Regions from separate parts of the Homo sapiens genome. Here region 2 is linked to region 1. Evidence: fine-mapped QTL for protein levels in blood plasma. A gene starts in region 1. The other region holds a variant in brackets. All regions are shown on one strand. Distances are between the middles of the regions. Region 1 holds the start of BST2 (bone marrow stromal cell antigen 2). Region 2 holds the start of PLVAP (plasmalemma vesicle associated protein).

Region 1 (15,014 bases):
GGCCCTGTCTCAAAAAAAAAAAAAGAAAGAAATCAGAGCTCAGAGAGGTCGAGTCCCAGAGCAGGGACACTCAGCAGTGGCTGGTCACTGCCAAATTCCCACTGGGGACTGCAGAACCCCACAGCCGTCAGCTTCTCAACCCCTGGGTGGGTCACAGCCTTGGAGTCAGGTCTCTCAGGAAAAGGACAAAATAGGGAGGGAAGATGGGACATTTTAGGAAGTAGGGAAATTTACACCCAGGCCATTGTGTGGGGGGATTGGGAGTTGAATCCACAATATTGGGCTAATCTTATCAGCAAAATACAGCCCAGGCAGGATGGGGGTGGGGGTTGTGGGGGGAGAGTGGGGGAGGGAGTGTGAGTAGGGGTGGGGGTGGGTGGAGCAGCAGCATAGTCTGGGGACCTTTCCATGGCCCAAGTCGGGAGTGGTGAGTGGAGGAGGTCACGTGGGGAGCGTTTGTTTCCTGGGCAAAAGGAAATCCACAGAATGTGGAGGGTTAATTGCCCAACGAGCTTTGAAACCCTGAACAAGGCCAGGCATGGTGGCTCACGCCTGTAATCCCAGCACTTTGGGAGGCTGAGGCGGGCGGATCACGAGGTCAGGAGATCAAGACCATCCTGGCTAACACGGTGACACCCCGTCTCTACTAAAAATACAAAAAAAATTAGCCCAGCGTGGTGGTGGGCGCCTGTAGTCCCAGCTACTTGGGAGGCTGAGGCAGGAGAATCACTTGAATCCAGGAGGTGGAGGTTGCAATGAGCTGAGATCGCACCATTGCACTCCAGCCTGGGCAACAGAGCAAGACTCCATCTCAAAAAACAAACAAACCAACCACAAAAAAAACAAAAACCCCTGAAAAAGTCCAGTAATTACCCTAGGCCTCACCGGGGCTGTTGGTGAGGATGAAATAGCTTAGTAGTTGCAAAGCGGCTTTGGCTTTTTTGCAAGCCAGGGCCACAGAAGTGAAGGCCCACCCTGCTCCCGGGGACACTTAGCAACATATAGAGACTTTTTTTTTCTTTTGAGACAGAGTCTGGCTCTGTTGCCCAGGCTGGAGTTGCATCATCTTGGCTCACTGCAGCCTTGACATCCCAGGCTCAAGCGATCCTCCTGCCTCAGCCTCCCAAGTAGCTGCGACTACAGGCGTGTGCCACCATGCCCAGCTAATTATTAAATTTTTTGTAGAGATGGAGGTCTCCCTATGTTGCCCAGGCTGGTCTTGACCTCCTGGGCTGAAGCAATCCTCCCCCTTCGACCTCCCAAAGTGCTGGGATTACAGGCATGAGCCACCATGCCCAGCCTGGAAACATTTTTAATTGTCACAACTTGGGAGGGTGTTACTTGCATTTATGGGTGGGGGCCAGGGATGCCGTTTAATATCCTACAATGCAGCTGGGCGCCGTGTCTCATGTCTGTAATTCCAGCACTTTGGGAGGCCGAGGCGGGTGGATTTCTTCAGGTCAGGAGTTCAAGACCAGCCTGAACAACATGGTGAAACACCGTTTCTACTAAAAATACAAAAATTAGCCGGACATGATGGCGGGTGCCTGTAATCCCAGCTACTCGGGAGGCTGAGGCAGGATAATCACTTGAACCCGGGAGACGGAGTTTGCAGTGAGCTGAAATCGCACCACTGCACTCCAGCCTGGGAGACAGAGTGAGACTCCATCTCAAAAAAACAAACAAAAAAAACCCAAAACAAAAAACAAAATCCTACAATGCACAGGATGGTCCCCACCCAGAGAACCATCCAGCCCAAACCACCAATGCTGCTGAGGCTGAGACCCTGCCCTAGACCTTGGGAGTGAGGAACGGGTGCTCCAGGCAGCAGGCAGAGCTTGGGCAAAGGCCTTGAGGCAAAAAGGAACTTGGGATCAGTAAAGGTGGAGGTGGTGAGCAAGGGGAAGTGAGGGGGCAAGAGGGCCAGGGGGTCTGTGGCAGGGGAGGTATTTGGGGACCCTTCCCTGGGACAGCAGTAGGAACCATGGAAGTGGAGGCCTGGTTTTATTTATTTATTTATTTTTGAGACAGACTCTTGCTCTGTCGCCCAGGCTAGAGTGCAGTAGCGTGATCTCAGCTCACTGCAACCTCCACCTCCTGGGTTCAAGCGATTTTCCTGCCTCAGCCTCCTGTGTAGCTGGGACTATAGGCACGACCCACCACCCCCCGCTAATTTTTTTTATTTTGAGACAGAGTCTCGCTCTATTGCCCAGGCAGGAGTGCAGTGGCGGGATCTCGGCTCACTGCAACATCCGCCTCTCGGGTTCAAGCGATTCTCGTGCCTCAGCCTCCTGAGTAACTGGGACTACAGGTGCATGCCACCACGCCAGGCTAATTTTTTGTATTTTTAGTAGAGACAGGGTTTCACCGTGTTCGCCAGGATGGTCTGGATCTCTTGACCTTGTGATCCAACAACCTTGGCCTCCCAAAGTGCTGGGATTACAGGCATGAACCACCACGCCCAGCCATTTTTTTGTATTTTTAGTAGAGATGGGGTTCACCATGTTGGCCAGGTTGGTCTTGAACTGAGCTCAAGTGATCCACCTGCCTCGGCCTCCCAAAGTTCTGGGATTACAGGCGTGAGCCACTGTGCCTGGCCAGAGGGTTTTTTTTTTTTTTAAATCCCACTGACCGTCTGGGCTGGGGACTGTGGGACCTTAGGATAGTACAGAAATCTGGGACAAGGGACTCCTGGCTCCATTACCACAAACAGGAGTTGGAGTTGCAGAGACAATGGCCGGGATTCCGGGAGAACTTGGAGGAAGTAAGATAACAGAGAAGGAAGGGACTATGGCATCTTTGAGGATCGAATAAGGTAGGTGAAGGGTCCGTCGGGATTGCAGCCCTCAATTGTGGAGAAGCAGAGAGACTCTCTGGGGGAGGGGTTCCCAGAGCTGGGTACTGCAGAATGAATAAGAGTTTGGGGAATCGGGCCAGGTGTGATGGCTCATGCCTGTAATCCCAGCACTTTAGGAGCCCAAGGTGGGTAGATCCCTTGAGGTCAGGAGTTTGAGGCCAGCCTGGCCAACATGATGAAACCCCTGTCTCCACTAAAAATACAAAAATTAGCCAGGTGTGGTGGTGTAGTACTGTAATCCCAGCTACTCGGGAGGCTGAGGCAGGAGAATCACTTGAACCTGGAAGGCAGAAGTTGCAGTGAGCCAAGATCGTGCCACTCTACTCCAGCCTGGGCGACAGAGCAAAACTCTGTCTCAAAAAAAAAAAAAAAAAAGAGCCGGGGGTGGTGGCTCATGCCTGTAATCCCAGCACTTTGGGAGGCCAAGGCAGGCAGATCACCTGGGGTCGAGAGTTCGAGACTAGCCTGACCAACATGGAGAAACCCCGTCTTTACTAAAAATACAAAATTAGCCGGGCATGGTGGCGCAAGCCTGTAGTCCCAGCTACTTGGGAGGCTGAGGCAGGAGAATCGCTTGAACCCGGGAGGCGGAGGTTGCGGTGAGCCGAGACTGCGCCATCGCACTCCAGCCTGGGAAACAAGAGCGAAACTCCGTCTCAAAAAAAAAAAAAAAAAAAAAAAAAAGAGAGAGAGAGAGAGAATCTGGGGGATGAAGCAGGGGGAAACATTCTGACAATGCATGGCCTGTGTGTGTGTACAGATCCCAGTTTAAATCCCAGCCCAGCATTTTCTGCAGGCGGGAAGGGAAGCAAGACAAGGTTACTCTCAGTTACAGCCTCAGTTTCCTCACTGGATCCCCAGGAATCAGGAGAGGCTCTAGGGAGGAGATGAGAATACAACACCTGGGAAACGGTGAGCCCTGATGAGGGTGCATAGTTCTTATGTTGATCCCAGCAGAGACAAGGGCTGGGAAGAACTGGGGTGGTGCCTCCCCGAACTCCGTGGGCTCCTGAAAACGTCCTGGAGCAGGGAAGGGAGGTGTCATCGTCAACGGGGTGTCCACTCTCACCTGCAGGGGCGGCCCCAACGCTTGGGTACTAAAACGATGATACTCCAGGAACTCGAGAGTCAGGTGTGCTCTCCCTCAAAGGAAGTGTTTATTTTTTGGAGCTCAAAGACCCCAGAAAAAAGCAACCCCCCCCGCAAAAAAAACCCATAACAACAGGCAGCACATGCCCCCCACACCGCACCCCATGCCCAATCTCAGGGTGGGAGACAAGAGGGGGGACTCATTGTCCGGAGGGAGGCTCTGGAGGGAGACAGCCCTGGGTCAACCCGACTGTGTCCCCACACCCAGGACTTCCCCATGGCCCCTCCAGACCTGCTCCAGAGGCCCTTCTCCGGCTACCCCGTGCTCTCCCCGCTAACCGTGTTGCCCCATGACCCGCTCAGAACTGATGAGATCAAGGGAATGTTCAAGCGAAAAGCCGAGCAGGACGGACCTTCCAAGATGTGCCTAAAGGACCAGAAGAGGGACTCAGGGCAGACTGGAGGCAGCAGACACTGGCCCCGCTCCAAGCCCGGCCCCAAGCCCCGCCCCCATCGCTAGACCCGCCCCACCCATCCATAAGCCCCTCCCCTCCATCGATAGACCCGCCCCCATTGATAGCCCCGCCCCATACAGCTATCAGCCCGTCCCCGATCCAGGGCATCCTTCTCACTGGATTCTCCCTCCTTCCCCAAGGCCCCTCACCTCTGCGCCCAGTCCCTTCCCCTGCAGCCTCTCTCTCTAGACTTCGGAGCCTCTGCTTCCCCGCCCCGCTTCCCCAGCTTTCTTCTCCCTCCCGGGGCCGCCCCCTCCTCACTGACCAGCTTCCTGGGATCTCACTGCAGCAGAGCGCTGAGGCCCAGCAGCACAATCAGCAGCTGGGGCGCCGCAGCGGAGCTGGAGTCCTGGGAGCTGGGGTAGTACTTCTTGTCCGCGATTCTCACGCTTAAGACCTGGTTTTCTCTTCTGCGGTACAGATGGCAAATCAGGCATCTGCTCGTCCTGGCTCCTGCCGCCCTCCCTGTAAGCCCACCGCCCCCGGGAGTTCCCCCCGCACCGCCCCAATCCAAGTCACCGGGGAGGGAATGGACAGCGGCCACCCATGGCTCTGTGACCCTAGGGGCTAAGTTATCCTTTTGTGGGACTCAAACTTTATCCCTTGGGGCAATGGGGATTTTGGGAGCAAAGGAGATCCTGGGTCTTGGGCTAGGGATGTGGGGGTGAGAGGAATGTGGCAGGTGGAGGGTAGCGGGGGAAGGCTATCTCTGACCTCAGTCGCTCCACCTCTGCAGACGCGTCCTGAAGCTTATGGTTTAATGTAGTGATCTCTCCTGGTAGGGTGGGAGGACAGAAACAGGGGGCGGGTCAGCATGTGGCCATGCTGGGGCCCTGCTCCACTCTGGGACAGAACCTCCCCCTTACCCCAACCTCCAGCCCTGGTCTCCCTGCCCCCACCCCCTCTTCCATACCTGACTCACCCCTCCCCGGCCCTCTCCCTTCTCCCTTTCTCACCCTCAAGCTCCTCCACTTTCTTTTGTCCTTGGGCCTTCTCTGCATCCAGGGAAGCCATTAGGGCCATCTAAGAAGAGTTAGAATCTGGGGTTTTGGCCTGGGGAGTTTGGCTGCTGCCCCTGGGACCTGGGCCTCCTCCCTAGGTCCTGGGGACAGAGGGGCTTAAATGCAAACCCCTTTCAGGTTTTCTTCCAACCCTCTCTGCACCATGGTCTCCAACCTTAAAGAACAGCCACAACCACACACTCTCCCAGGGCCACCCATAAGCATGTGGGTCCTCAAAATGGGAGTTTTGAGGCCACCCCACGTGGAAACTTGGAGGCTATCGATAACCAAAGTTTAGTGGACATTTCCAGATTGCCTGAGCAATGGCCCAAGAAAAGTTAGAGGGCCCTACCAAATCCAGAATGCAGTGGGATTTCCCCGCCCAAGTGACATGCCCAGCGAGAGTTTCAAGATCCCCCATATCAGGACCCAGGTGAATATTTCAGTTTCTTAGGGATGAAGTGAAAATTTCAAAAGCCCCCTTTTTCAGGGTCTGGTGAGGTCCCCCTTCAACCCTGAATAGGGATTTCTACTCCCCCAGGACTGGTGCCCACGAGGAGTTTCAAGGCCCCCGACACCAGTGCCCTGGAAAGAATTTATAAATTCACCTAAGTCCCAGGGGGATACTGAGGTCCCCGATTTGGGGGATCTGGAGAGTTTTAACACCCTGCCCCTACACCAGTGCCCTGGACTGGGTTAGGGGCCCACAAACCCTGGTAGGGGAACCTAGGTCCCTTGATGTGGGGGCCCAGGAGCAGTTTCAGGACCTCCCCTGCATCTCCCTGGAGACCCACCCTGGGTCAGATTTCTGGGGAGAGATTCTTGTCCCTCCCACCGCCTAGTACTAGGCCATCCAAAGGAGTTGAGGAGCTTACCACAGTGTGGTTGCAGGTGGCGGCCTGGGCCTCCACATCCTGAAAGCCCTTCTGGGCCTCGGTCAGCTCTTGTTGCAGGAGATGGGTGACATTGCGACACTCCATCACTGCCCGAAGGCCGTCCCGGCAGGCCTCGCTGTTGGCCTTGATGGTGAAGATAATCAAGGGCACCCCCAGAATCACGATGATCAGGAGCACCAGAATTCCTATCCCCAGCAGAAGCTTACAGCGCTTATCCCCGTCTTCCATGGGCACTCTGCAATAGTCATACGAAGTAGATGCCATCCAGATCTCCCCTTTAGAGTCTGGCCTGGAGTTAGGGGAGGGTGCTGGAATCTTCTACGGGCCACCCCTTTATTAGCATAGGAAACGTCCTGACCAATAGCAAGTTCCAGGAAGTGCTCTGACCAGCAGCTCTTGCATGAGGCACCTACAGGCAGAGGATTAATTAGGTTTTCAGTTTCAGTTTCCCAGAAAGGAGGTGGGCTTTTTTTTCACCCTGCTTTAAAAGCCCTTGGGCCCTTCCCAGCTGGGTGCCAGCCAACTGTGGCTGCCTGGGACACTCCATCTTAAGTCCCTGTGCCTCTGCTGTGTGTTACTGAGTGCCTAGGCCGTGCCAGCCTGTATTCATCTGTACTATGACCTGAAGAGGCAGAGGCCATCACTGTTGGTCCGGTCTCCACCTGGGGAAACTGAGGTTGCACAGTTGCGTGGTGGAGTGAGGGCAGGGCCTGGGTCTGGGGGCGGGGCCTGGGTCTGACCCCAGGGACTGGTTTTTGTGTTCAGGTGTCTCTGTGGTGACGAGCAGGGCTTCATCCAGTGCCTCTGTCCCCACCGAGGGGACTATGGGAGACATGGAGGGTGTGTGAGCAACAGGTGAGACTGGAGCCAGCTGAAAACTGGGAGACCGACCCAGCCAACAAACAATGTCGGTCTCTGTCTTGGCACCTGCAGGAAACAAGCTCCTACTTCCAGAAAAAGTGCTCCTGGGACTCCAGGATACCAGGTAAACTCTCTGAGCCTGTTTCTTCATCTGCAAAGGGGAATAACAGGGCCAGCCTCAGACACTGTCCATGTGGCCAAGAGAGCCAGGGCTTCCTACAGGAAATCAGGCCCATTATCGGCACCCAACTGCTGGGCATGACCGCTGAAAGGGGACTGCATGTTTTTCTTGTGGCTTCTTCAGCCACATCCTGACCACAGCCCAGATTCTGTTAGGTCTGCCATTTCCATGTTTTTTTTTCTTTTCAGCAGGGCCAGACAGTAGGCGAGGTCAAGTCCAGAGCCCAGGCCTCCCAGAAGGCCTGGGGAACTCCCCCCAGGCCCTGACTCCAACATCCCTCAGAAGGACCCCATTAAAGCCACTTAGAGCCAGGCATGGTGGTACATGCCTGTGGTCCCAGGCTGAGGCTGGGAGGCTGAGGCAGGAGGATCACTCGAGCCCAGGAGTTTGAGGCTGCAGCGAGCTATGATTGTGCCACGGCACTCAAGCCTGGGTGATAGAGTGGGATCCCATCTCTTAAACCAATAAACAAAAAAATCACTTAGAACCAAGAACCAATTAACAAGCTGTGGGAGATGATCTTGCTGAAAATTCTGAGGGTGAACTTGTCCCAGGAGGAGGGACCTACCAGCCTGGCCAGGACTCCAGGTGCAAAGACACGACCTTTGCCTGACTTATTTGACTAAGCTGACTTATTTGAGCAGCACTGTTCTGGCCTGCTAACTTTAGGGTTAGTTTGGGACCAGGTCGGAAATCACAATTGCATGAATTGCACATTGGAGGCCAGGGTGGTGCACCTCTGGGCAAATGAATTTCCTCTCTTAGCATTGATTTCCCCAGCTGTAAAATGTGGATAATAATAGATTGATGTCCTCTCTAAATTTTGCAGCTGTAAACAGTCCCAGCCCTGCAAACCGAAAGTTTGTTGCTCTTCCCTTTAAAATTACTGTAGGGACCAGCCCCACAGGGTCAGTGGGTCTCTCCCTGTGTGCGGCGACGAGAGAGTGTAGAAATAAAGACACAAGACGAAGAGATAAAAGAAAAGACAGCTGGGCCCGGGGGACCACTACCAGCAATGCGCGGAGACTGGTAGTGGCCCCGAATGTCTGGCTGTGCTGTTATTTATTGGATACAAAGCAAAAGGGGCAGGGTAAAGAGTGTGAGTCATCTCCAATGATAGGTAAGGTCACGTGGGTCACGTGTCCACTGGACAGGGGGCCCTTCCCTGCCTGGCAGCCGAGGCAGAGAGAGAGAGAGGGGACAGACAGAAAGACAGCTTATGCCATTATTTCTGCATATCAGAGACTTTTAGTACTTTCACTAAATGACTACTGCTATCTAGAAGGCAGAGCCAGGTGTACAGGATGGAACATGAAGGCGGACTAGGAGCGTGACCACTGAAGCACAGCATCACAGGGAGACGGTTAGGCTGCCAGATAACCGCGGGCGAGCCTGACTGATGTCAGGCCCTCCACAAGAGGTGGAGGAGCAGAGTCTTCTCCAAACTCCCCCAGGGAAAAGGAGCCTCCCTTTCCCGGTCTGCTAAGTAGTGGGTGTTGTTCCTTGACACTTTTCGCTACCGCTAGACCACTGTCCGCTCGGGCAACGGGCGTCTTCCCAGACGCTGGCGTCACCGCTAGACCAAGGAGCCCTTCTGCTGGCCCTGTCCGGGCATAACAGAAGGCTTGCACTCTTGTCTTCTGGTCACACCTCACTATGTCCCCTCAGCTCCTATCTCTGTATGGCCTGGTTTTTCCTAGGTTATGATTGTAGACCGAGGATTATTATACTATTGGGATAAAGAGTAATTACTACAAACTAATGATTAATGATATTCATATATCTCTAAGATCTATATTTGGTATAACTATTCTTGTTTTATATTTTATTATACTGGAACAGCTCGTGTCCTCAGTCTCTTGCCTTGGCACCTGGGTGGCTTGCCGCCCACAATTACAAATGGTGGGATGGGTGCAGTGGCTCATGCCTGCAATCCTAGTACTTTGGGAGGCTGAGATGGGAAGATTGCTTGAGGCCAGTAGTTCGAGACCAGCCTGGTCAACATAGAGAGATCCTATCCCTATTTAAAAATAAATATATATATATATTTTAAGTACATATATTTATTTTATTTTGTTTTAATTAATTAATTAATTAATTAATTTTTTTTGAGATGGAGTCTCGCTCTTGTTGCCCAGGCTGGAGTGCAGTGGCACGATCTTGGCTCACTGCAACCTCTGCCTCCGGAGTTCAAGCGATTCCCCTGCCTCAGCCTCCTGAGTAGCTGGGATTACAGGCGCCCACCGCCATGCCTGGCTTATTTTTGTACTTTTAGTAGAGACAGGGTTTTGCCATGTTGACCAGGCTGGTCTTGAACTCCTGACCTCAGGTGATCTGTCTGACTCAGCCTCCCAAAGTGCTGGGATTACAGGCGTGAGCCACTGCACCTGGCCTATATTTTATTTTATATTTTTAAATATATAATGTATTTTTATATATTGGTTGGTGCAAAAGTAATTGCGGTTTCTGCCATTACTTTTTTTTTTTTTTTTTTGAGAGGGAATCTCTCTCTGTCGCCCAGGCTGGAGTGCAGTGGTACGATCTCGATCACTACAACCTCTGCCTCCTGGGTTGAAGCGATTCTCCTGCCTCAGCCTCCTGAGTAGCTGGGACTACAGATGCCTGCCACCATGCCTGGCTACTTTTTGCATTTTTAGTAGAGATGGGGTTTCGCCATGTTGGCCAGGCTGGTCTCAAACTTCTGACCTCAGGTGATCCACCCAACTTGGACTCACCAAGTACTGGGATTACAAGCGTGAGCCACCGTGCCCGGCCTATATTTTATTTTATATTTTTAAATATATTCTCCCTCTGTCACCCAGGCTGGAGTGCAGTGGTGTAATCTCGGCTCACTGCAACCTCTGCCTCCTGGGTTGAAGTGATTCTTCTGCCTCAGCCTCCTGAGTAGCTGGGACTACAGATGCCTGCCACCATGCCCAGCTACTTTTTGTATTTTTAGGAGAGACGGGGTTTCGACATGTTGGCCAGGCTGGTCTCGAACTCCCGACCTCAAGGGATCCACCCGACTTGGCCTCCCAAAGTGCTGGGATTACAGGCATGAGCCACCGCTCCCAGCCTCTGCCATTACTTTTTTTTTTTTTTTTTTTTTTTTGAGATGGAATTTCACTCTTGTTACCCAGGGTGGAGTGCAATGATGCAATCTTAGCTCACCACAACCTCTGCCTCCTGGGTTCAAACAATTCTCCTGCCTCAGCCTCCCTAGTAGCTGGGATTACAGGCATGCGCCACCATGCCCGGCTAATTTTGTATTTTTAGTAGAGAGGTTTAGGTTTCTCCATGTTGGCCAGGCTGGTCTCAAACTCCCGACCTCAGGTGATCTGCCCGCCTCGGCCTCCCAAATTGCTGGGGTTACAGGCTTGAGCCACCGCACCCAGCCTTTTTTTGTTTTTTTCTTTGAGATGGAGTCTCGGTCTGTCTCTCAGGCTGGGGTGCATTGGCACGATCTCGTCTCACTGCAACCTCTGACCTCCGCCTCCTGGGTTCAAGCAATCCTGCTGCCTCAGTCTCCTGAGTAGCTGGGATTACAGGTACCCGCCACCACGCCCAGCTAATTTTTGTATTTTTAGTAGAGACGGGGTTTCACCATGTTACCCAGGCTGGTCTCGAACTCCTGACCTCATGATCCGTCCATCTCGGCCTCCCAAAGTACTGCGATTACAGCCATGAGCCACCACGCCCGGCCTTCCATTACTTTTAATGGCATTAATTAATTATGCTTACTAAAAGTTATGGCAGAAACCACAATTACTTTCGCAATAAAATTAGAAATGGAAACTGTTATGCTACCATTCTTTTTCTTTTTTTATTTTCTTTTGAGACAGAATCTTGTCCTGTTGCCCAGGCTGGAGCGCAGTGGTGCAATCATAGCTCACTGCAGCCTTGACCTCCTGGGCTCAAGCAATCCTCTCACCTCAGCCTCTGGCGTAGCTGGGACTATATGTGTGCACCACCACGCCCAGCTAATTTTTTATTTTTTGTAGAGATGGGGGTCTCAGTATGTTTCCCAGGCTGGTCTCAAACTCCTAGGCTCCAAAGATCCTCCTGCCTCAGCCCCCGCAAAGTGTTGGAATTACAGGAGTAAGCCACTGCACCCAGCCGCTAGCATTCTTTTGGTTTTAGCTTCATATATATATATATATATATATATATATATATACACACACACATATATATATACACACACATATATATACATATATATACATATATATATACACACATATATATATACACATATATATATATAATTATTATTATTTTAGAGAAACATTTCAGTTGGGAGCAGTGGTTCATGCCTGTAATCCCAGCACTTTGGAGGCTGAGGCGGGTGGATGACCTGACGTCAGGAGTTCGAGACCAGCCTGGCCAACATGGTGAAACCCTGTCTCTACTAAAAATACAAAAACTAGCCAGGCGTAGTGGCAGGTGCCTGTAATCCCAGCTACTCAGAAGGCTGAGGCAGAAGAATCGCTTGAACCCAGAGGCAGAGGTTGCAGTGCAGTGAGATCGCGCCACTGCACTTCAGCCTGGGCGACAGAGTGAGACTCTGTCTCAAAAAAAAAAAAAAAGAAAAGAAACATTTTATTTTATTTTATTTTATTTATTTATTTTTGAGACAGAGTCTCACTCTGTCACCTAGGCTGGAGTGCAGTGGCGCGATCTCCACTCACTGCAACCTCCAACTCCCTGATTCAAGCAATTCTCCTGCCTCAGCCTCCCAAGTAGCTGGGATTACAGGCATGCGCCACTACGCCCAGCTAATTTTTGTATTTTAGTAGAGACAGGGTTTCACCATGTTGGCCAGGATGGTCTCGATCTCCTGACCTCGTGATCTGCCCACCTCAGCCTCCCAAAGTTCTGGGATTACAGGCGTGAGCCACCGTGCCCGGCCAACATTTTATTTTAGAATAGTTTTAGATTTGCAGAAAAAAAACAGTGAGGATAATAGAATTTCCCACATTCCCTACACCCAATTTCCCCTCTTTTATTTATTTATTAAAGACAGGCTCTTGTTCTGTCGCCCAGGCTGGAGTGCAGTGGTGTGATCATAGCTCACTGCAGCCTTTGACCTCCTGGGCTCAAGCGATCCTCCCACCTCAGCCTCCCGAGTAGCTGGGACCACAGATGCTCAGTACCACACCTGGCTAATTTTTTTACTTTTTTTGTAGAGATGGGGTCTCACTATGTTGACCAGGCTTTTCTCAAACTCCTGGGCTCAAGCGATCCTCCTGCCTCAGCCTCCTGAGTAGCTGGGACTACAGCCACTCACCACCATCACGCCCAGCTAAGTTTTGTATTGTTTGTAGAGACGGGATCTCTGTATGTTGCCCAGGCTGGTCTCAAACTCCTGGGCTCATGTCATCCTCCTTCCTCAGCCTCCCAAGGTGCTGGGATTATAGGTGTGAACCACTGCACCTGGCTAAGAAAAAAAAAATAGGAGCAAAGATCATCCGCAACCATCCCTCAGCTGTTTCATTTCTGTTTATTACACTACATGCATATTTCACTTACTTTGGGATACTGAGATGTGGCCCCGGATGGGCTTCTGAGGACAACTCCATGCCTGTAGGAAGTCGCTGGCCCCAGGGCGCTCAGCGGGTGGGGGCGATTCTGCTCCAGGGGACATTTTTATTGTCACCGCGGGGGCTGGGAGTGCCGCTGCCATCTAGGGATGTAGGCCAGGGATGCTGCTCAACACTACAGTGTACAGGACGGCCCCCCACAGTAAATGATCAAGCCCCAAGTGTCAGAGGTGCCACCAGACGTGACAAGCCCTGCCCTGGGGAGAACTGAGTGCAGGTTTGGAGTCAGACTTGGGCTCAAATTCCATCATGGCGAACCAGCTCCTTTCCCTCGGGCCTCTGCTTTTCTTTCTCTCTCTTTTGCTCTTTCTCTCTCTCTTTCTTTTTTGAGATGGAGTCTCACTCTGTTGCCCAGGCTGGAGTGCAGTAATGCAGTCTTGGCTCTCTGCAACCTCTGTCTCCCTGGTTCAAGTGATTGTCCTGCCTCAGCCTCCCAAGTAGGTGGGATCAAAGGTGTGTGCCACCACGCCCGGCTAATTTTTGTATTTTTAGTAGAGACGGGGTTTCACCATGTTGGCCAGGCTGGTCTCAAACTCCTGGCTTCAAGTGTTCCACCCGCCTCAGCCTCCCAAAGTGCTGGGATTACAGGTGTGAGCCACTGCCCCCAGCCAACCTCTGCTTTCTTATAGCGGGGGTGTGATAACAGCTGCTTCCCAGTCAATTGGAATGTCCACACAAATTAGAAACTGAAACAGTATCTCCATCAACTCAGAGAAAACAGTAAAAAGAAAATAGGCGGTGAGATTTCTCATCAGTTACATTATTCTGACTTTAATTAGTGTCCAGGGAAACTGAAACTATAGCTATACCTAAGATAAACATTTGAAGAAGGAGTAAAGGAAAGATTAATTTTGCAGCTGTCTCAGGGTCTGGTGGAGGGCTGATGGATGTCATCCTGTCTTTGTTTTGCACCGGGGAAAGTAAGCTTGTAATCAGTGCTGTCAGGATGAAATTCAGCAGACTGGTTCCGTGGACAAGGGGTCACATAGAGCTTGTAAACCTAAGGTTACGTATCTTTGTTTACGGGAGGCTGGACATCTTGGAAAGATTTAGGAGTAAGCAAAGAATTTACGTATGAACAATTTGTGAGGGTGATCATCTGGAGATGTGTGAGGGCTTTTTTTTTTTTTCTTTTTGTAGGCATCTGGGTAAGCTACAATGCTTAACCACTTAACACAATCAGGAAGCAACAGCCATGCATTCGGGAAAGGAACTTCAGTGTTGTGTGGCTCAGTCTCCAGACCTAACTTTCCCTTTGGTACAGACGCGGTGGTACATGCCTGTAATCCCAACACTTAGGCAGGAGGATCACTCGAGCCCAGAAGATCAAGACTAGTGTGAGCAACAAAGTGAGTTTCCCCCCACCCCTCACCTCAACAAAACATTTAAAAATTAGCTGGACATGGTGGCTGCGCCTGTGGTGGCTGGAGTGCAGTGGTGTGATCTTGGCTCACTGCAGCCTCTGCATTCAAGCAATTCTCCTGCCTCAGCCTCCTGAGTAGCTGGGATTACAGGCACCTGCCACCACGCCTGGCTAATTTTTGTATTTTTAGTAGAGACCGGGTTTCACCATGTTGGCCAGGCTGGTCTCCAACTCCTGACCTCAGGTGATCTGCCACTCAGGAGGCTGGGTAGGAGGATCCCTTGAGCCCAAGGGGTAGGAGGGTCCCTTGAGCCCAAGAGATCAAGGATGCAGTGAGCCATGTTCGCATGACTGCACACCTGCCTGGACAACAGATGAGACCATGTCTCAAAAACAAACAAACCAATACAAACAACAACAACTTTTCCTTTGGCAAACTGCCTTTGGAAGGTCCTCATATTTTTATTTTCTTTGACAGGAAAAAGCAATATATAGAAAGTGCTTAGCTTAGCACTTTGTACATTACAGTTCCCCATCATAGTTTGCCCTTGTCATTTGATAAGTTTTGGACTTGACTGCAGGCTTTCCTTAAACTGAACTCCCAGAAGTGGGGTTACTGGGTCCAAGGGGATGCCTATGTCCCAAGCT
Region 2 (15,014 bases), 30 kb before region 1:
CGGGGAGGCGGAGGTTGCAGTGAGCCGAGATCGCGTCTCTGCACTCCAGTCCAGCCTGGGTGACAGAGCGAGACTCCGTCTCAAAAAAACAAACAAACAAACAAAAACCTGGAACAGATCCTTCCCTCACAGCCTCAGAAGGAACCAACCCCGCTAACACTTTGATCTTGGTACCACCCAGTCTGTAATACCTTGTCATGGAAGCCCTAGCAAATTAATACAAATGCTAACACCATCTCATGAGGCAAACAACAGTCTTTAAAAAAAACCTTTTTTTGTTTTTTTTTTTGTTGTTGTTTTTGAGACAGGGTTTTTTGCTCTGTCACCCAGCCTGGAGTGCAGTGGCACGATCTCGGCTCACTGTAACCTCCGTCTCCCGGGTTCAAGTGATTCCCCAGCCTCAGCCTCTCGAGTAGCTGGGATTACAGGTGTGCACCACCATACCTGGCTAATTTTTGTATTTTTAGTAGAGACAGGGTTTCGCCATGTTGGCCAGGCTGGTCTCGAACTCCTAACCTCAAGTGATCTGCCCACCACCAGCCTGGCCAACATGGCGAAACCCCATCTTTGCTAAAAATACAAAAATTAGCCAGGCATGGAAGCGCATGCTTGTAGTCCCAGCTATTTGGGAGTCTGAGCCAGGAGACTCGCTTGAATCCGGGAGGCGGAGGTTGCAGTGAGATGAGATTGTGCCACCACACTCCAACCTGGGGAACAGAGTGAGACTCTATGTCCAAAAAAAAAAAAAAGAAAAATTAAAATTAAATTAAATAAGATATGCAAATGGCCAAAGAGCATATCAAAAGACATTCAAAATCGGCTGGGCGCGGTGGCTCACACCTATAATCCCAGCACTTTGGGAGGCCAAGACAGGTGGATCACCTGAGGTTGGGCATTCGAGACCAGCCTGGCCAACATGGTGAAACCCCATCTCTACTAAAAATACAAAAAAATTAGCCAGGCCTGGTGGCAGGTGCCTGTAATCCCAGCTACTTGGGAGGCTGAGGCAGAAGAATTGCTTGAACCCGGGAGATGGAGGTTGCAGTGAGCCACGATCACACCATTGCACTCCAGCCTGGGTGACAGAGCGAGAGTCTGTCTAAAAAAAAAAAAAAAAAAAAAAAAAGAAAGATATTCAAAATCATTAGCCATTACGGAAATGCAAATCAGGACCACAGTGAGATACCACTACACACCCACGAGGGTGGCTATTTTAAAAACCCATAAACCCCCAAAATGAACAGTAACAGGTGTTGATGAGGATGTGGGGAAATCAGAATTCTCAGACAGTACTAGTGAGAATGTACAATGTTGCAACGGCTTTGGGAAAGTCTGGCAGTTCCTCAAAATGTTAAACATAGTTACCACGTGACCCAGAAACTCTACTTCTCAGCATATACCCAGAGCAATGGAAACACATCCTCACATCAACTTGCCAGGAATGTCCACAGCCGCTCGATTCACAGTAGCCAAAGGTGGAAAGAACCCAAATGCCTGTCAGCAGATGAATTAACGCACAAAATGTGTTCCTTCCATACATAGAACATGATTCAGCCATAAAAAGGAAGGAAGCACTGATCCATGTTGCAGTGTGTGTGAACCCCAAAAACATGATGCCTAAGTGAGAGAAGCCGGACACAAAAGGCCACAGAATGTGAGATTCCACTGACATGAAATGCCCAGAACAGGCAAATCCATAGAGACAGGAAGCAGGTTGGTGGCTGTCAGGGATTGGGGGAGGGGAATGGGAAGTGACTGCTGATGGGGACGTGGGTTTTCTTTTGGGAAGGTGAAAATGTTCTAAAATAATGTTCTAAAATGGATCGTGGTGATCAATGTACAACTCTGTGAATTTACAAAAAAATCATCAAATTGGCTGGGCGCGGTGGCTCACGCCTGTAATCTCAGCACTTTGGGAGGCCGAGGCGGGCGGATCACGAGGTCAGGAGATCTAGACCATCCTGGCTAACACGGTGAAACCCCATCTCTACTAAAAATACAAAAAATTAGCCAGGCGTGGTGGCGGGCGCCTGTAGTCCCAGCTACTCGGGAGGCTGAGGCAGGAGAATGGCGTGAACCTGGGAGGCAGAGCTTGCAATGAGCTGAGATCGCGCCACTGCACTCCAGCCTGGGCGACAGAGCGAGACTCCATCTCAAAACAAACAAACAAACAAACAAAAACATCAAATTGTACACTTTAAATAGGTGGATTGTAAAATACATGAATTATATATCAATAAAGCTGTTTTTAAAAATTATTTATTATTATTATTATTATTGAGATGGAGTCTCGCTCTGTGGCCCAGGCTAGAGTGCAGCGGTGTGATCTCAGCTCACTGCAACCTCTACTTCCTGGGTTCAAGTGATTCTCATGCCTCAGCCTCCCAAGTAGCTGGGAATACAGGGGTGCACCACCATGACCAGCTAATTTTTGTATTTTAGTAGAGACGGGGTTGCACCATGTTAGCCAGGTGGTTTCGAACTCCTGACCTCAAGTGATCCACTGGCCTCAGTCTCCTGCCTTGACTTCCCAAAGTGCTGGAATTACAGACGTGAGCTGCCACGCCCGGCCAGCTATTTTTATTTTAATTTAATTTTATTTTTTTTGAGACATGGTCTCACTCTGCCACCCAGGCTGGAGTGTGGTGGTGTGATCACAGCTCACTGCAGCCTCAGCCTCCCCAGGCTCGGGCAATCCTCCCACCTCAGTCTCTCAAGTAGCTGGGATTACAGGCACGTGCCACCACTCCTGGCTAATTTTTTATAGAGATGGGGTCTCACCATGTTGCCCAGGCTGGTCTTAAACTGCTGAGCTCAAGCAATCCACCCACCTTGGCCTCCCAAAATGTTGGGATTACAGGTGTGAACCACCACGCCTGGCCAGCAAAGCTGTTTTTAAAGAAAGTGTTCACAATTTAACAAACTAAAGCCATGCCTTTCAAACTTTGGAAGAGAACCCTCTGCAGAAATATAATAAGACATGAAGAATCAGGAGAGTTTGTCTTTCTGCAACTCTCTGTCCTTCATCCTTTTGCAGTTGGCCCTGGGTGAATGTCCTGGGGGGACATGGGGAATGCCTTCTGTTCTCAAAAGCCTTAGTCATTAGGAGGCTGAGGTGGGAACACTGCTTGAGGCTGGGAGTTCGAGACCAGCCTCGGCAATGTAGTGACACCATGTCTCTAAAAAAAAAAAAAAAAAAAAAGGATGTGATTTTTAAGTTTCTTTTTTAATTTTTAGTTTATTTTTTATAGAGAAGAGGTGTCTTGGGAGGCTGAGGCAGGTGGATCACCTGAGATCAGGAGTTCCAGACCAGCCTGGCCAACATGGGGAAACCCCATCTCTACTAAAAATACAAAAAATTAGCTGGGTTTGGTGGCGGGTGCCTGTAATCCCAGCTACTCGGGAGGCTGAGGTAGGAGAATCACTTGAACCCGGGAGGCAGAGGTTGTAGGGAGCTGAGATTGCGCCACTGCAATCCAGCCTGGGCGACAGAGTGAAACTCTGTGTCAAAAATAGTAATAATAATAATAAAATAATTAAATAATGTTTTTATTTATTTATTTATTTATTTTTTGAGACGGAGTCTCGCTCTGTCGCCCAGGCTGGAGTGCAGTGGCGCAATCTCGGCTCACTGCAAGCTCCGCCTCCCGGGTTCATGCCATTCTCCTGCCTCAGCCTCCCGAGTAGCTGGGACTACAGGCGCCCACCACCACACCTGGCTAATTTTTCGTATTTTTAGTAGAGACGGGGTTTCACTGTGTTAGCCAGCATGGTCTCGATCTCCTGACCTAGTGATCCACCCACCTCGGCCTCCCGAAGTGTTGGGATTATAGGTGTGAGCCACTGCACCCGGCCAATAATTTTTTTTTAAATGAAAAGACAGGCCAGGTGCAGTGGCTCACACCTGTAATCCCAGCACTGGGAGGCCAAGGCGGGCGGATCACGAGGTCAGGAAATTGAGGCCATCCTGGTTAACATAGTGAAACCCCGTCTCTACTAAAAATACAAAAAAAAAATTAGCAGGGCATGTTGGCGGGCACCTGTAGACCCAGCTACTCGGGAGGCTAAGGCAGGGGAATTGCTTGAACCCAGGAGGCAGAGGTTGCAGTGAGTGGATACCGCGCCATTGCACCCCAGCCTTGGCGACAGAGCTAGACTCTGTCTCAAAAAAAAAAAAAAAAAAAAAAAAAAAAGAAAGAAAAGACACCAGTTAGCCAGGTTCAGGTCTGAGAGGGGAGGCAGGGCTCTAATCTGAGGATCTAAGGGGCAGGCAGGACCCTATTGGGAGGGTCTGAGGGAGGGGCACAGTTATGCCCTGGGGACTGAGGGGTGTTCCACCCCATCTTGGGGGGCTGAGGTGAGACCTACCATACTCTGGGCATCTGGGGAGACGGTGCTTTGCCCCGGGGTTTTGGCGGATAGAGACAGGGCCCTACCCCTGGGGCTCTGGGCGAGGGGTTGAGGTGGAGGTAGGGCCCCGCCATTAGGGGTCTGAGGTGAGGAGACTGAGTTCTGCCTTGAGCAGGACTGAGGGGGCTGAGCTTACCTTCCTGCCCAGTGCGGACGGCTGGGTGGTCTGAGGTCCTATGGGAGGTCTGTCTTTGCCACTGCCTGGGCCCTGGCCAGCCAGGTCACCTCCTTGGAAGACCCTGAAGCTGCCTCTTCAGCCTTCCCTCACCCCACCCTCCCATCTCTCACCCACCTCACCCTTAAGGAGAGAGCCCCACACCTGCTCCCCACAATGTCTCAGGGCAGGCGGGACACCCCCTGGATGAAGTTGTGTCTGAGAACACGGGGATAATTGTCTAGTGAGTTTGACACAAGCCGGGGTGCGAGAGTGGCGCGATGGTCTCCAGGAGACCCCAGATTTGCAGCTGTGACTTTGCCCAGAGAGCCCGCCTGTTTCTGCCACCTCAAGAAAGTCACCTCCCCTCTCATGCCTTCACTTTCCTGCCTGCAAAGGGTTTAAAACTTCTGCTGCCCAGGCGCAATGGCTCACTCCTGTAATCTCAACACTTTGGGAGGCCAAGGCAGGTGGATCACTTGAAGGCAGGAGTTTGAGACCAGCCTGGCCAACATGGTGAAACCCCATCTCTACTAAAAATACAAAACTTAGCCGGGCATGGTGGGGCGCACCTGCAATCCCAGCTACTCGGGAGGCTGAGGCAACAGAATCGCTTGAGCCTGGGAGGCAGTGGTTGCAGTGAGCCGAGACCTTCCACTGCACTCCAGCCTTGGCAACAGAGGGAGACCCTGTCTCAAACAAAACAAAATAAAACAAAACAGCCGGGAACGGTGGCTCACGCCTGTAATCCCAGCACTTTGGGAGGCCGAGGCGGGTGGATCACAGGGTCAGGAGATCCAGACCATCCTGGCTAACACAGTGAAACCCGGTCTCTACTAAAAATAGAAAAATTAGCCAGGCATGACGGCGGGCGCCTGTAGTCCCAGCTACTCAGGAGGTTGAGGCAGGAGAATGGTATGAACGCAGAAGGTGGGGCTTGCAGTGAGCCGAGACTGCGCCACTGCACTCCAGCCTGGGTGAAAGAGTGAGACTCCATCTCAAACAAAACAAAACAACAAAAGCTTCTCCCTACTTCCCGGGATTTGGCAATGAGTTAATATTTCTAAATTCAACACCCAGCATACAGCAAATATGGACTGTTTATACATGCTAGAATTGAACAGGAACAAAACACTGTGAACTTTTATTCAGTCCATCCTTTTTTTGTTTTTTTTTTTCCATTCAGGGTCTCACTCAGTCGCCCAGGCTGGAGTACAGTGGCACTATCTTGGCTCACTGCAGCCTTGACCTCCTGGGCTCAAGTGATCCTCCCACCTCAGCCTCCCAAGTAGCTGGGACTACTGGCATGTGCCACCATGCCTGACTAATTTTTGTATGTATGTATGTATGTATGTATGTATGTATTTATTTTTAGACAGAGTCTCCCTCTGTTGCCCAGGCTGGAGTGCAGTAGTGAGATCTCGGCTCACTGCAATCTCTGCCTCCCAGGTTCAAGTGATTCTCCTGCCTCAGCCTCCCGAGTAGCTGGGACTACAGGCACATACCACCATACCCGGCTAATAATTTTTGTATTTTTAGTACAGACGGGGTTTCACTAGGTTGGCCAGGCTGGTCTCAAATTTCTGACCTCAAGTGATCCACCCACCTTGGCCTCTCACAGTGCTGGGATTACAGGTGTTAGCCAGTATGCCTGGCCTAATTTTTGTACTTTTTGTACAGACAGGGTTTCACCATGTTGCCCAGGTTGGTCTCAAATTCCTGGACTCAGGTGGTCCTCCTGCCTCGGTCTCCCAAAGTGCTGGGATTACAGGTGTGAGCTACTGTAGCCGGTCTTCAGCCACTTATTTGCAGCTTGTGTGTGCTGGACCCCTTTGATTAGTGCTGGCACATTCTGGGAGCTTCATGCATAGTAAGTTATGGGCTCAGGACTGCCAATTAACACACAGGAGGAGAATTAAACTTGGATTCCAAAAAGACAATGAATATTATTTTCAAAATTATATCTCAAATATTGCATGGAATATACTTACAGTTTAAAAAAAATGTTGCTGGCTGGGAATGGTGGCTCATGCCTGTAATCTCAGCACTTTAGGAGGGTGAGCCTAGGAGTTCAAGACCAGCCTCAGCAGCATAGTGAGATTCTGTCTCTAAAAAAAAGTTAGCCAGGGCACCAGGTCAGGGCACGGTGGCTCATGCCTGTAATCCCAGCACTATGGGAGGCCGAGGTGGGTGGCTCACTTGAGGTCAGGAGTTTGAGACCAGCCTGGCAAACATGGTGAAACCCCGTCTCTACTAAAAATACAAAAATTAGCTGGCATGGTTGCACACGCCTGTAATCCCAGCTACTCAGGAGGCTGAGGCAGGAGAATCACTTGAACCTGGGAGGTGGAGGTTGCAGTGAGGCGAGATTGTGCCACTGCACTTCAGCCTGGGTGACAGAGCGAGACTCCGTCTCAAAAAAAAAAAAAAAAATTGCCAGGTGTGGTGGTGCCCACCTGTAATCTCAGCACTTTGGGAGGTCCAGGAGGGAGGATTGTTTGAGCCCAGGAGTTCAAGACCAGCCTGATCAACATAGCGAGACCCCACGTCTACTAAAAATAAAAAATGACCTGGGCATAGTGGCATGTCCATAGTGCCAGCTACTCAAAAGGCTGAGGCAGGAG[G/A]ATTGCTGGAGCCCAGGATGTCAAGGCTTCAGTGAGCTATGCTCACATCACTGTGCTCCAGCCTGGGTGACAGAGTGAGACCCTGCCTCCAAAAAAAAGAAAAGAAATAAAAAAAATTTAGCTGGACGCAGTGCCCCACACCTGTAATCCCAGCAGTTTGGGAGGCTGGGGTGAGAGGATTGCTTGAGCCCAGGAGTTCGAGACTAGCCTGGGCAACATAGTGAGACCTCATCTCTGCTAAATATAAACATATTAGCTGGGTGTGGTGGTGCACGCCTGTAGTCCCAGCTACTCAGGAGGCTGAGGCAAGAGGATCACTTGAGTCCAGGAGATTGAGGTTGCAGTGAGCTGTGATAGCAATTGCACTCCATCCAGCCCAGGATACACATGGAGACCCTGTCTCTTAAGGAAAAAAAAAAAATCTATCGGCCGGGTGCAGTGGCTCACGCTTGTAATCCCAACAATTTGGGAGGCCAAGGCAGGCGTATCACTTGAGGTCAGGAGTTTGAGACCAGCCTGGCCAACATGGTGAAACCCCATCTCTACTAAAAATACAAAAATGAGCCGGTTATGATGGCACATGCCTGTAATCCCAGCTACTCGGGAGGCTGAGGCAGGAGAATCACTCCAACCCAGGAGGCAGAGGTTGCAGTGAGCCGAGATTGCACCACTGCACTCCAGCCTGGGAGACGGAGCGAGACTCTGTCTCATAAGAAAAGAGAGCATTGGTCCTGTGATCGTCCCCCTCTCTTGGATGAGGAAACTCAGGCTCAGAGAGGTGAGGGGGCTTGCTCAGGGTCCCCAGGGCGAGTGTCCTGCCCACAGCCTTACCCGGTCACCCTGGCACTGGCGGAAGCTGGCATTGATGCGGTCCAGGTCGCGGCGAGCATTCAGCCACATCTGCATGATGGCATCCTTGGCGCGGGTGGTGAAGTTGAGCTCCTTGGTCAAGTTGGACTGGGAGGCCGTGAGCCCTAGGAGCTGACTGTATAGGCCCTCGGCTCGGCGCTCGGTGGCCTGCAGGTTGGACTCTGTGCTCACGTGCACGTTGCCATAGACCATGAAGAGCACGAGCCCCAGGATGATGAGGAATTGGATGAGGGAGACGAAGAGGAAGAAGTAGCGCAGGTAATACCAGCAGCCCCGAGAGCTGCCCCCCGCCCGAGCGTAGGACCCTCCGTGCTCCATGGCCAGACCCATTTGCTCGATCCCGCCGTCCGGTGCACCGTCCCTGCTCACCACCAGGCCTGCTCTGGCCCCCGCCTCGCAGGGGGGAGTGCTTATATTACTCCTCTTAATACTTCCTCTGCCTGGCTCCTTCCTGGCCCGGAGGAAACGGGGGCTGCGGGTTATCACAACACTCCCACTCTGGCTGTGAGAAGGCGGGGGTGGGGCTGGGGGCCCAGAGCCAGGGCACCGGCTGGACCCCTCTGATTAATGCTGGGTGGGGCGCTGGCTGGCTGGTCAGGCATTCCTGGCCTCTTCGAGCCTCGCGTTCGCCTTTACTTGCTGGCGGGTGCTGTTCTCAGTACCTGCTGTGATTAGGTCGCTGAATCATGCCAGGTCTGTTGCTGTCTCCCTTGTGTGGCGGAGGAAACTGAGGCACAGGGAGGAGAAGGGGTTGCCTCGGGGTCTCACGCTGTTAGTTCAGCGAACTTGACTTACCTCAAGACAGGCTGGCTACAGACGTGCACCCACTTCACCAGGGCGGTGCTGATTAAGTGCCACAAAACGTGGGAAATGTGCCAGGCACGGTGGCTCACGCCTATAATCCCAGCACTTTGGGAGGCTGAGGCGGACGGATCACCTGAGGTCAGAAGTTTGAGACCAACCCGGTCACCGTGGTGAAACCCCCCGTCTCTACTAAAAATACAAAACTTAGCCAGGTGTGGTGGTGCTCGCCTGTAATTCCAGCTACCCAGGAGGCTGAGGCAGGAGAATCGCTTGAACCCAGGAGTCGGAGGTTGCGGTGAGCAGAGATCGTGCCATTGCACTCCAGCCTGGGGTATAGAGCAAGACTCTGTTTCAAAAAAAAAAAAAAACAGAAAAAGTGTGAAACTCTTAGCTAGCCTAGGGATGGAGAAGCAGTAGGTGATTAGTAATTGCATAGGAGGGCGTCACGGAGGGCTGAGCCATGGATGGCGGTGGCGCTGGCTCCCCAAGCTCTGTCATTGCCCCCAGTGCCCTGTTCACTTAGATGCTCAGTAAATGCTCCAGGAAACTGCAGCACAAGGAATAATGAACTTGGAGCGGGGAAGAGCTGGCTTTGTCCCGGGAGAGCTCGGGCAAGAGGCCTCGCATGTCTGTGCCTCCCTTTTCCCCTTTGTGAGACGGGGTATACCCAGTGCCTCGTCACTCTGTGGCTGTTGTTATGATTAGGATCATTTCCTGCTGGAGGCACTGCTGGGGGCTCCGTGAGATGGTGAATGACAAGTGGTGGATACGTGGGACTGAGATTCCTCCCCCGACACTCAAAACCCCATGGGCGGCCGGGCATAGTGGCTCACACCTGTAATCTCAGCACTTTGTGAGGCTGAGGCAGGCGGATCACCTGAGGTCAGGAGTGCGAGACCAGCCTGGCCAATATGGTGAAACCCCATCTCCACTAAAAATACAAAAATTAGCCGTGTGTGGTGGCGAGCACCTGTAATCCCAGCTGCTTGGGAAGCTGAGGCAGGAGAACCACTTGAACCCGGGAGGCGGAGGTTGCAGTGAAGCGAGATCGGGCCACTGCACTCCATCCTGGGAGATAAGAGAGAAACTCTGTCTCAAAAACAAAAACAAACAAACCAAAAAAACCACGGGAGTTTTCTGGGGTCGCTGTGGGTCACCCCCCAGTTGGGCCTGGAGGGGATTTGGGGACCCGGAAGCAAAGGATTCTGTGTGTCCTGCCTATCTCCCAGGATCAGGAGCTCCAGGGAAACCCTCCCTGGAGTCCCTTCTTTGTTTGCTCCATGCTGGGTGATGCCAGGGCCCCCCAAGAGGTGTCAGTCCCAACCTCAGCCACAAGCAACTCCCAGTCTTGGGAGACAGACTGGGACAGGTACCCCCCACCCTGTGGAGTCAGGGTGGGCTGGAGGAACAGGAGCAGGGAGCCGGAAAGGAGGCTGGACTCCGGACAGGTGACAATCATGCAATTGCTGTCCTCTGTAGGGCAATGTGAAGGCTGGGGCGTGGGGACCCGTCCCCCCATTAGCCAGGGTAACAGAGTGGGGAGGGGTCGTTGACAGAGCGGAGGGGTACTCCAGGGTGGTGCTCAGTGAGGCGAGTGTAGAGTTGAGAAGAAGGAAGTTCCCAGGGGTGGGCAGGAAACCCATGTCTGACCTTTGACCTTTGCAGCTACCCGGTGGTTCCTGATCCTGATTCCGGACCCTTCCCAGCGGCGTCGTCGGCGGCTGCTAGTGGGGGAAGGAGGGCTGGGGGCTGCCACGGGTGCCCAACCAGCCATTTCTCTGGGTTGGCCAGACCCACCCAGAGCCCCCCAGAGCTGGGCAGGAGGAGAACATCCTCCGTAATGGGGGCAATGTAGTCTGAGTGAACCCAGCATTACAGTTTAGAGTTCTGGAGTTGAGTTCTGACTGTGCCACCTACCAGCTTTGTGGCCTTGGAGAAGTGACTTTCCCTCCCTGGGCCTCAGTTTTCTCCTGTCCGAAGTGGAGATAGCCAGGTGCAGTGGCTCACACCTGTAATCCCAGCAGTTAGGGAGGCAGAGGTGGGAGAATCGTTGGAGCCCACAAGTTCAAGACCCTGTTCTAAAAAAAAAAAAACCCAAAAAACAAAAACAAAACAAAAATCAAGTGAAGACAACATAGCCAGTTTTTTTTGTTTTTTTTTTTTGTTTTTTTTTTTTTTTTTTGAGATGGAGTCTGGCACTGTTCCCCAGGCTGGAGTGCAGTGGCACTATCTTGGCTCACCACAGCCTCTGCCTCCTGGGTTCAAGGGATTCTCCTGCCTCAGCCTCCTGAGTAGCTGGGACTACAGGCACGCGCCAGCATGCCTGGCTAATTTTTTGTATTTTTAGTAGAGACAGGGTTTCACCAGGCTGGTCTCAAACTCCTGACCTCGTGATCCGCCTGCGTCGGCCTCCCAAAGTGCTCGGATTACAGGCGTGAGCTACCTCACCTGGCCAACAACATAGCCAGTTTTGAAGTACTTGACGTCATGCCTGGAACATACTCAGTCTTAATAAATGATGGCCTTTTTTTTTTGAGACAGAGTCTTGCTCTATTGCTCAGGATGGAGTGCAGTGGTGCGATCTCGGCTCACTGCAACCTCTGCCTCCAGAGTTCAAGCAATTCTCCTGCCTCAGCCTCCCAAGTAGCTGGGATTACAGATGTGCAGCACTACTGCTCAGCTAATTTTTGTATTTTTAGTAGAGACGGGGTTCCACCATGTTGACCAGGCTGGTCACAAACTCCTGACCTCAGGTGATCCACCTGCCTTGGACTCCCAAAGTGCTGAGATTACAGAATGAACCACCGCACCGGGCAATGATGGCATTTTTTAAGATGTGAGGGCTGGATCATGCCTGGCCTCTGATGTCAGGCTGAGGAACTCAGACATAGGGGAGGGGCAGTATTCCCAGCTGCCGGTGCCCCAGGCCTGTGAGAGCACTGGGGAAAGGAGAGCATGATGGGGATGAAGTGTGGGTGACCAGGGTCCAGCAGAGGAGCTGAGGCTGGGTGCAGTGTCTGGGCCAATGCCAGTAGATGTGGGTCTTGGTGTACACTTAAGATCTTGGCTGTTCTTCATTGTATATAGAAGATGTTGCATCTATGTATGTATGAATGTGATACCAGTTGACAAGGAAAAATAAAGGCAACCTCAAACTCCCAGAAAACAAAAAGCCCCCCGGACCTGATGGTACTGATGTGCCACAATTTTGAACAGTTGTCACCATGTGAGAAGCAGAGTTTTAAATATACATACCAATGTTATTTGTATCAAGCCCAAAAACAATATTTGGTGTCCTTTTCTAATTTGATCTCACACCTTTAATTTGTAATGTTTCTGTTTTGGATCATTTGTTATATTAGCTGATTTAACTTTGTAACTTTTTGTTTGTTTGTTTTGAGGCAGAGTTTTCTCTTGTCGTCCAGGCTGGCATGCAATGGCATGATCTTGGCTCACTGCAACCTCCACCTCTGGGTTCAAGTGATTCTCCTGCCTCAGCCTCCTGAGTAGCTGGGATTACAGGTGCACACCACCATGCCTAGCTAATTTTTTTTTTTTTTTTGGTATTTTTTAGTACAGATGGGCTTTCGCCATGTTGGCCAGGCTGGTGTCGAACTCCTGACCACAGGTGATCCACCCACCTCATCCTCCCAAATTGCTGGGATTACAGGCGTGAGCCACCACGCCAGGCCTGATTTTTTTTTTTTTTTTTTTTTTTTTTTTTTTTTTTTTTTTTTTAGCAAAAAGGGTAGGCTGGGGGTCGTGGCTCACACCTGTAATCCCAGCACTTTGGGAGGTCGAGGCGGGTAGATCACGAGGTCAGGAGTTCGAGACCAGCCTGGCCAATATGGTGAAACCCCATCTCTACTAAAAATACAAAAATTAGCTAGATATGGTGGCGGATGCCAGTACTCCCAGCTACACGGGAGGCTGAGGCAGAAGAATTGCTTGAACCTGGGAGGTGGAGGTTGCAGTGAGCCCAGATCGTGCCACTGCACTCTAGCCTGGGCTACAGAGTGAGACTCCATCTCAAAAAAAAAAAAAAAAAAAAAGGTAAAGATAGACCTTCCTCTTTTTGCACAGTATTATGTCTTTGAGATTCATTGACTCCTATGGCTGGCTGTTTAGGTTTTCACCAGATACAGTACCATAAAATTATGAATGGACACTTAGATTTTTTCTGAGTTAGTTTTTCAATAAATAAAAGAAGATTTAAAATCAAATTTCCTGGCTGGGTGCGGTGGCTCACATCTGTAATCCAAAGCACTTTGGAAAGCCAAGGCAGGCGGATCACTTGAGTCCAGGAGTTTGAGACCAGCCTGGGCAACATGTTGAAATCCCATCTCTTCAAAAAATACAAAAATTAGCCGGGTGTGGTAGTCCCAGCTACTTGGGAGGCTGAGGCAGAGAATTGCTTGAATCCAGGAGGCACAGGTTGCAGTGAGCCGAGATCACACCACTGCACTCCAGCCTGGGTGACAGAGTGAGACCCGGTCTCAAAAAAAAAAAAAAAAAAAAAAAGAAAGAAAGAAAGAAAGAAAGAAAGAAAGAAAATCAAATTTCCAGAAATGAATGAAATTACTGGGTCTCAAAGTGGGCACATTTTTACATTTTGATAGTTGTCACCAATTTGTCCTTCAAAGAGGTTGTTTTCATTGACATCTTTGCCTGCGATGTCTGAAATCTCCAAACATGGACTTTATGAAAATGTTCTGTTTGTGTCCTTGGCCAGAAAAATCTGGAGGGAGAATGTGAGTGCCTGATCAAGAATCTACATGAAGTCAAATGCATCAGCCCTGATGTGAGTGTTGGGTTTTTTCCTGAAAACAATTTGTCATGTTCACAGGAAATTTTGCACATGAATCCCTTCAAATTCCCTTGGAGGGGCATCAGAAAATCAGGCTTGCTTTTTAAACCCTTTTGTTTTTCTAAACAGAAAACAATTGATTTGGTTTCATTTGTTTGTTTGAGTGGAGAAGGAAAAACTGTCATGAGGAAGTCAACTCTGTGTCACTCCCTGAAAACTGACACTGAAGTCCTCATGGAGACACGAGTTAAAAAAAAACAAAATCACTCAGAACTTCAGGAAGGTCCTTGAGGAAGTGATATTTCTGGTGAAGAAGGATTTCAGTGAAGTTCAGAAAACCTTCCACTATTTTGTTTTTTTTTTTTTGAGACGGAGTGTTGCGCTGTTGCCCAGGCTGGAGTGCAGTGGCACGATCTTGGCTCACTGCAAGCTCCGCCTCCTTCCGGGTTCATGCCATTCTCCTGCTTCAGCCTCTAGAGTAGCTGGGGACTACAGGCTAATTTTTTGTGCCTTTAGTAGAGATGGGGTTTCACCGTGTTAGCCAGGATGGTCTCGATCTCCTGACCTCGTGATCCACCCACCTCGGCCTCCCAAAGTGCTAGGATTACAGGCGTGAGCCCCTGCGCCTGGCTTTTTTTTTTCTTTTTCTTTTTTTGTTTTTTTTGAGACGGAGTCTCGCTCTGTCGCCCAGGCTGGAGTGCAGTGGCGCCATTTCGGCTCACTGCAACCTCTGTCTCCCAGGTTAGAGCAATTCTGGCTCAGCCTCCTAAGTAGATGGGACTACAGGTACACACTACCACCCCCGGCTAATTGTTATATTTTTAATAGAGACTGGGTTTCACCATATTGGACAGACTGGTCTTGAACTCCTGACCTCAAGTGATCCTCCTAACTCAGCCTCCCAAAATGCTGGGATTACAGGCATTAGCCACTGCACCGGGCCAACCCTCCACTTTTATGTCTGTGAGTTTGGTTTTTGGTTAATCGAAGTGAAGTTAAGTTTTGTGCTTTTGGAGGTGACGGAGGCAGCGAAGAGAGTCCCTCTGTGGGGTGGGGGAAACCTGTGCTCTCTGGGACTCTGTGTTCCCTGCTGAAAAACAGGGACCTAGGCTGGGCGTGGTGGCTCACGCCTGTAATCCCAGCACTTTGGGAGGCTGAGGCAGGCAGATCACCTGAGGCCAGGAGTTTGAGACCACCCTGACCAACATGGAGAAACCCCGTCTCTACTAAAAATACAAAACTAGCCAAGTGTCCTGGCGCATGCCTGTAATCCCAGCACTGGGGAGGCTGAGGCAGAAGAATCGCTTAAACCCGGGAGGTGGAGGTTGCAGTGAGCTGAGACTGC

What was found. PIP is the chance, under the fine-mapping model, that this variant and not a neighbour inherited with it causes the effect. Protein levels are from antibody-based Olink assays in UK Biobank. Linkage for the fine-mapping came from a reference panel and not from the study's own genotypes, which makes the PIPs less certain.
Region 2: its variant is fine-mapped to the plasma level of the BST2 protein (UK Biobank, PIP above 0.99).

What each region holds. Positions count from the first base shown.
Region 1 is chr19:17,398,954-17,413,967 of GRCh38, forward strand. It overlaps BST2 (bone marrow stromal cell antigen 2), which reads right to left and starts at 6,677. Exons shown (of 5, transcript NM_004335.4): 1 at 6,338-6,677; 2 at 5,418-5,484; 3 at 5,176-5,236; 4 at 4,727-4,871; 5 at 3,986-4,373. The coding sequence starts at 6,622. The coding sequence ends at 4,742. It overlaps BISPR (BST2 interferon stimulated positive regulator), which reads left to right and starts at 6,733. Exons shown (of 4, transcript NR_130766.1): 1 at 6,733-6,818; 2 at 7,124-7,343; 3 at 14,144-14,352. It also overlaps a transcript of MVB12A not described here. RefSeq lists a cis regulatory region at 23-587, a silencer at 4,164-4,332 and enhancers at 5,856-6,594, 6,579-6,638, 6,709-7,088, 7,279-7,338, 7,389-7,438 and 2 more.
Region 2 is chr19:17,368,901-17,383,914 of GRCh38, forward strand. It overlaps PLVAP (plasmalemma vesicle associated protein), which reads right to left and starts at 8,442. Exons shown (of 6, transcript NM_031310.3): 1 at 8,020-8,442. The coding sequence starts at 8,388. It overlaps LOC105372298 (a long non-coding RNA gene), which reads right to left and starts at 10,872. Exons shown (of 3, transcript XR_936362.3): 1 at 10,780-10,872; 2 at 10,513-10,586; 3 at 9,890-9,930. RefSeq lists an enhancer at 10,260-11,148. The variant G/A (reference allele first, on the strand shown) is at 7,189.